2 linked regions of the Homo sapiens genome follow. The protein of the gene in region 1 purifies or fractionates together with the protein of each later gene. This does not show direct contact. Each region holds a gene or a part of one and is shown in the gene's direction. Other genes may lie near its edges.

What was found. The genes of interacting proteins can lie anywhere in the genome.
Region 2: the proteins of CKAP2L (region 1) and SIRT5 purify together in Homo sapiens (affinity purification with mass spectrometry; one large-scale study listed by BioGRID and IntAct). This does not show direct contact.

What each region holds. Positions count from the first base shown.
Region 1 is NC_000002.12:112,751,110-112,754,609, reverse strand, and holds part of CKAP2L (cytoskeleton-associated protein 2-like), read left to right. Parts: intron 1-2,135; coding exon 2,136-2,343; intron 2,344-3,500. UniProt on the Homo sapiens protein: Microtubule-associated protein required for mitotic spindle formation and cell-cycle progression in neural progenitor cells.
Region 2 is NC_000006.12:13,591,601-13,595,100, forward strand, and holds part of SIRT5 (NAD-dependent protein deacylase sirtuin-5, mitochondrial), read left to right. Parts: intron 1-68; coding exon 69-294; intron 295-3,500. UniProt on the Homo sapiens protein: NAD-dependent lysine demalonylase, desuccinylase and deglutarylase that specifically removes malonyl, succinyl and glutaryl groups on target proteins.

The sequences.
Region 1 (3,500 bases):
ACACAGTGAGTCTTTACCTTTCTGGAGCTAATTGTTTGGTGTATATATAGAAAGTACTAGAGAAACAAAATTATGGCATCGAGGTCCTAGGAGTAAGTTGCCTTTAGAAAGGGAAAGTTCACTCTTCGTTTATGATTAGAAGGAAGGCTAAGGAGATAGGGAAAATGCTAGGAACATGGAGGAAGCACATGCCAAATGTCTCACCTTGTATCATCAAGTAGGTGGTTGGAGTGAAGGTGAGGGGGCAGTATTTGGGGCTGAAATAATAAATATTGCATGGATGTTGCTCTGGAGTCAGAAATGAGAGTTAATAGCATTCATTCATTCAAAACTTAGTTATTGGCATTCTGGAAAAACCAAAACTATAAAGACAAAAAACGGATCAGTGATTGCCAGGAGGGGGGCGTTAGGGGTGAGACTGACTACCAAGGAGCATGAGGGAATTAGTGATAGTGTTGCAACCATCTTATAGCTTGATAATAGTCAGACTTAAATGACTTGATGCATTTGTCAAAACTCAGAATTGCACACTAAAAGGTGAATTTTACTGTGTGTTATTAAATACCTATGTGTGCTAGGCACTGTGCTGGGAACTGGACTGCCAAGGTTTCTGCCTTCATAGAGCTTACACTCTAGTGGAGGAGACAGAAAACCAACACATTGACTAAATAAGACACGGTAATTACAGGTAATTGCGTCTTCATGGAGGTGTCATTTGAGGGGAGGACTGAAGATGCAAGACCTTAAGGCAGGAATGAGTCTGGATCAAGAAACTTCAAGGAGGCAGGGTACAATGGTTCACGCCTGTAATCCCAGCACCTTGGGAGGCTGAAGTGGTCAGATCACTTGAGGTCAGGAGTTTGAGACCGGTTTAGCCAACATTGTGAAACCCCATCTCTACTAAAAATACAAAAATTAGCCGGGTGTGGTGGCACGCGCCTGTAATTGCAGCTACTTGGGAGGCTGAGGCACAAGAATCACTTGAACCCAGGAGGCGGAGGTTGCAGTGACCTGAGATCATGCCACTTCACTCCAGCCTGGGCAACAGAGCAAAACTGTCTCAAAAAAAAAAAAAAAAAAAAAGAAAAGAAACTTTAAGGATACCTGAGCTCCTGGAGGGGGTGAGTGACAGGGAGACTAGTGTGATACGAGGTTGGAGAGGTAGGCAGGAGCCAGATTACACTGTGCCTTTCTGCCTTGGAAAATATTTTGAATTTTATTCCAAGAGCTGTGGAAAGTTCTTGGCAGTGACACAGCCTGGGGTGCTATTTACCAAAGTAAGAAAAATTTGTAACAGATGCAGAGATGAAAATCAATAACTTTGTTTGTGACAGTATTAAATTTGAAATGCCTGTCAGACATCAAAAGATATCAACTAGGCGGTGGGTTTTACAAAGTTTGGGGATCCAGGGAGAGATCTGGACTGAAATGTACACTTGGAAGTCATTATTAATATGTAGTTGTAATTTAAAGAAACTGGAGTGTCTACATCCAAACATGAGGTCTATATGTCTTGGTGCCCCTACCCCCAAAAAGCAGTCTATCACCTGTTAGAAGCTGGAGTGGAAAATGTGAACAGTGGGGGACACTTGGCACTATCAGAGATCAGCTACTTAAGAGCCCTGACTTTATAGGTCTAGCTTATGAAAGAGTCATGTCTGGTCAAGAGAGGGCTAAGGAACTAGGTGAAGTGGGTCAGTTTACACACCAAGACCTTATTGAGGGTAGAATGCAGGCTTGGTGGGTTTGGGTTGAGTGACAGCTTATGCGTGAGAGAAATGAATTGCTGAGTTAGTCATCTCAAAAATAGAGGGATGTCTTAGGAAAGCAAGTGTCAAGTAGCATATAGTGAAGTGAAAACTTTCCGAGAAAAATAATGCATAATCACGAATTCTATTTGAAGTCTGAAGTGCTGGCCACGTGTGATCTTAGAATCTTGGTGTCTGCCTTCTCGTGGGTGGGCGCAACCCAATGCTGCCATTACCCATTTGTAAATTGTTTTTTAATTCCATTCTCCTGATTTTGTCTGTAGTTGAAAGTATTTAATTATACTCTATCTATACATATCATATACTTTAGCAGCTTGACTATGTTTAAAAATAAATAAAACCACTCTCCCTTTAATTGAATTTCAGGAAACAACTAGAAGAATGGCAGAAATCTAAGGGAAAAACCTATAAACGGCCTCCTATGGAACTTAAAACAAAAAGAAAAGTAATAAAGGAAATGAATATTTCATTCTGGAAGAGCATTGAAAAAGAAGAGGAAGAAAAGAAAGCACAACTCGAACTGTCCAGTAAAATTAACAACACTCTGACAGAATGTCTGAACCTCATCGAAGGGGTAAGTGAAGAAGATAAGCTCCTCCAGCTTTGGCCCAAAGTCTTATAATTTTTAAACATATTCCTAAATATAATATAGGAGAGATAGCCTTCATCTAAGTAGAAATTTAGCTACTCTTGTAAATACAGAGTAATAATAATAATGACATGCCCATAAACAGTGTCTTTTGTGTATCTGTGCTTTTATAAGCACTTAGCTAAGATTATCTCACATAATTATCATAACCACTGTTACTATGACCACTTTACAAACAAAACTGAGGCACAAAGAAGTTGGAAAACTAATCCAAACAAACTGGCTCCAAAAGGAACTTTGCTTTCTTTGGGTATCAAGTTCTGAAGAGTACACATTTAACATTGAAACTGAGGTCAGAAGGCAAGTTTCTGTGTAAAGTTGGAGTATTCTGAATACTCTGGGTAGCTACAAATAGTATTTAAATTTTATCTTGGATTCTGCAGATAAGGATAAAATAGATGGTAGGCAAAGAGTATGATCCTTAGGAGAAATTTTTCCTGAAGGAAAAATATATTAATAAAAAATGATGGAATAAACTTCTAAGATCCTTGCCTAGAGCAAAACTCATTCAGTCCTTTGGCTGGTAATGTTGAACATCAGCAAAAAAAAGGAAAAGTTCAGTTTAAGTCTACTCCAGGCAACATTTTCACAACATCCAGTTAAATATTAACTATTTCTCCTTGTGGAATTGAACTTGAGTTCTTTTTCTTATCCTCTTTTTTTGTTGTTGTATTATTTAAAAATGAGTACCTTTTTATTATTGAAATCATTTCAAGTAATGCAGATAAATGATCAGCCCTCTCCCTCTACAAACATACATACTTAGGCATCCCAAACTTCTCTCTGGAGGTGACCACCATTGCCAGTCATTCATTCTGTTTTCATGCATGTCCATACAGTATAGGTATGTCGAGAAATGAAGTATTATATTTTTGTGAGTTGCAATTCTTTTATTCACATTTTTGTGTACTTTGGTTGTCTTTTCTTGTGTTTTCCTAGTACCAATGTTATGCTGACTTAGGCAGATGAGTTGAGTATTTTCCTTTTTGCCCTATAAACTGAAAATAGTTTGTATGACATGAGAATTATTTTTATTTTTTGAAGGTTTGATAAAAACTTGCCCATAAAAATCATCTGGACCG
Region 2 (3,500 bases), on another chromosome or scaffold:
TGTGCCCCAGGGTTCAGCATCCTGGCTGTCTCTGCCTCCCTCACTCCTGCCTCCTCTCCCACTCCCAGGACCTGGCGACTCCCCTGGCCTTTGCCCACAACCCGTCCCGGGTGTGGGAGTTCTACCACTACCGGCGGGAGGTCATGGGGAGCAAGGAGCCCAACGCCGGGCACCGCGCCATAGCCGAGTGTGAGACCCGGCTGGGCAAGCAGGGCCGGCGAGTCGTGGTCATCACCCAGAACATCGATGAGCTGCACCGCAAGGCTGGCACCAAGAACCTTCTGGAGATCCATGGTGAGAGACCCCCAGCCTCCCATTCAGGGAACCAGCTTTAAAACACCTGTCCTGCTGTTTCAGCATCACCTCTGGTGCCTTCCCTCCCTCCCTGCTGGACATCCGTCCTGTCCTATAGGATGCTGTGGCATTTCCTTTGGGGACATGTTAGTGTCCCGTGGCACCTGGGCAGCTGCCTTTGGCCATGGGAGGAGCCCCTGACCCACTAACATTATTCACTTAGCAGTTCCTCCATCCTCGCTGCTCAGGGTGGTCTAAGAGCCAGCAACATTTGGCGTCCCCCAAGAACTTGTTAAAAATGCAGAATCTCAGGCCCCATAGGCCCCACTGAATCAGAATCTGCATTTTCCCATGAGCCCAGGTGGCTGGCGTGCTTTTTATACTGGAGGAACGCTGGGGTGCACAGCTGCGTGACCCTTTCCTCTGTGGAGGGGCACGGTACTGTGAGACAATGGCCTCAATGAGCTGAGGAATAAGAGGCCTGGCCCATTGGACAGCTGGGGCTTGAGCAGGAGCAGACTGCAGCATCTTGGGGTCTCCTGTCACTCCCCCTTCATCCTGGTGGGCACTCCCCACTGAGGCTGTGCTTCTGCCCCGCCCTGGAGCCTCAGAGAGCTGCCAGCTCAGTGCTGGACACTGCACCAAGCCCACCAAGCCTGTGATGTCGGTGGACCCCACTGAGGCTGTGCTTCTGCCCTGCCCTGGAGCCTCAGGGAGCTGCCAGCTCAGTGCTGGACACTGCACCAAACCCACCAAGCCTATGATGTCGGTGGAGTTTGTCTTGGGTCCCTCTGGGCTCCTTCCTCTGTCCTGGGTAACCCCTCACCCCTTCACTCTTGTCTTCTGGCTCCTCCCTTCTTTGCTGTCACCACAAATCTAAAACATCCACTTGTCCACAGTCATAATGGGCAAACTAGGGTTTCCCCCAAGGCCATTTGCATTTAAAGAGTCTGCATTCAAATCCAAGGAATGCATTTCTTATTTTTTAAGCATTTATTTCTCTTAATTTAATTTAATTTAATTTTTTTTTTTTTTTTAGCAATGGGGGTTTCACTCTTGCCCAGGCTGGGGTGCAGTAGCCTGATCATAGCTCATTGCAGCCTTGAACTCCTGGCCTCAAGGGATCCTCCCACCTCAGCCTCCAGAGTAGCTGGGACTACAGGCACATGCCACCATGCCCAGCTACTTTTTAAAATTTTTGTGGAGAGTGTCTCACCATGTTGTCCAGGCTGGTCTCAAACTCTTGGCCTCAAGCAGTCCTCCCTCCTCAGCCTCCTAAAGTTTTGGGATTACAGGCTTGAGCCACTGTGCCAGCCAAAAATGCATTTCTAAGTGTAGCATTTCCAGAAGCAGTGCACCAGTCGGGGGTGTTTGTTTTTGCGTGTGTGTGGTGAAGCTGCCTGCTTTTACTTAGATCACCCTGATAAGGAAAGCGAGGCACTACTCATTTCGACTGTGTCTGTCTTTTGTTCATCAGGAACAGCCAGCCACCTATTAACCGAGCATCTTTTTGGTACCTACATCTGCTGGGTCTGAGCCACTTTCCATGTGCCTCTGCTGATTTCCCTGCAGTGTCAGAATGTGGGCTATGTCATCAGCATAAAACCGAGATGACAATGCCTATCTTATAGAATTGTTGTCGGGATTAAATAAGATCATATATGTGTGTTAGTCAGGACTTTTTAAAATTTCAAACGATGAGAACTCTCTTCTAACTTAGGTTAAAAAAAATCAATGGCATCTTCAGTCTGATGAAGGGTTTTTTTTAAGATGCATCATGTTTTTAATGTGGCATTTAGAATATAATCTGCCTAAACCATGATATACTATTTTATTATCCCTTAGAATTATTCTATACTTAGAGAAAGAGCTTGTTAAAACTTAGACACGTTCTTTAGAAATTATATCTTTCCAGGCATACATAAAGTATGAGTATGATAAACTGGTCCAAATATTTCTCATTATCTAGCTCTTCTAAATGATTCTGAGTGACTCAGAGCACGGATGTCTGTGTTTTCCATGCAGTTTCATGCTCTGTGTCTCGGGAGATGGATGATGCAGCGTTTCCTGAGAGAATGCCCCTCTGTTATAGCTGGGATTCTCATCCAAGCTCCTGACACACCTTCCGCAAGTTCGCTATTGGGCCTGACATGTTCTTACCAAAAGGCATCAGTGGAAAGGCTGTAGACAACAGCCAAAACTTGCTTTCCTTCCTGAAGTGGCCCTTGAAGGGTTTGTTGGCGGAAGGATCCAGGGGCTGAATCTGCCCGGTCAGGCCACGGAGAATAACAACAAAGTCACCCCATTTTTCAGTGTTCTCCTTCAACAAGTCTGTGCAAGCATGATGATGATGTTACAGTCTCATCTGGCCAGTAGCAATTGTAGGACACATCTGAATTTCAGAGATGTGAAAATGGGGAAAAATGTCTATGCTAAAACTGACAAAGTAGGTTTATTGGCTCACAAAACTGAGGAGCCTAGTGGTGCAGCTTATGTCATCTTTCCTCCCGGCCCCTGTCCCCCTCCTTCTTTCAGCTTTGCTCACTCTTTGAGGTGGCCTCCCTTCTCTCTCTGCAATTGATCTGTCTCCACGCGCCAAGGGAGAGTGCCTCCGACGGCTCCAGCTCAGCCACCTGCTCAGAAAATAAACCTCTGGGTAGGCTTGCTTGGTCCACACGCCCACCCTTCTGACCAAACACGACTGCAGAGGGATGGACACCACATGGGGGCCGTGCGCAGCATGTGGCTGAGCTTGTATTTGGGATGTGACCCACAGCCCTATTGGCTCAGCATGCGAGAGAGCAGGGATGGTGCTCCCCAAGGAAGGACTGGTGGGCAGGACGGAGCAGCGCATGTCCACTAGGGTTGAAAGTGCTCTGCACGGCACCAGTTGCCTGGTACCCATTTCATAAACTGTGGCCACCATGATTGCTTCAGCTCAATAAGTGGTGGTTAGTATTAACAATTACTTTTTTCACTTATTAGTTGATTACTTATTTATTGAGGTGCTTTTGTATAAAAGATTCAAGCTTTCTGAAATCGAAGTTAAAATTTTGTAAACATATCCCACGCCATTGAACCTTTGTCAGTCATGTCAATAAATCACGCCCTTAGATTTAGGTTGAGCTCCCTCTACCCTATTGGCAACTTCTGCCCACTTGAACACCACTCCAAGGTCATCTGATGGCACATTAGTCATGGAGTTA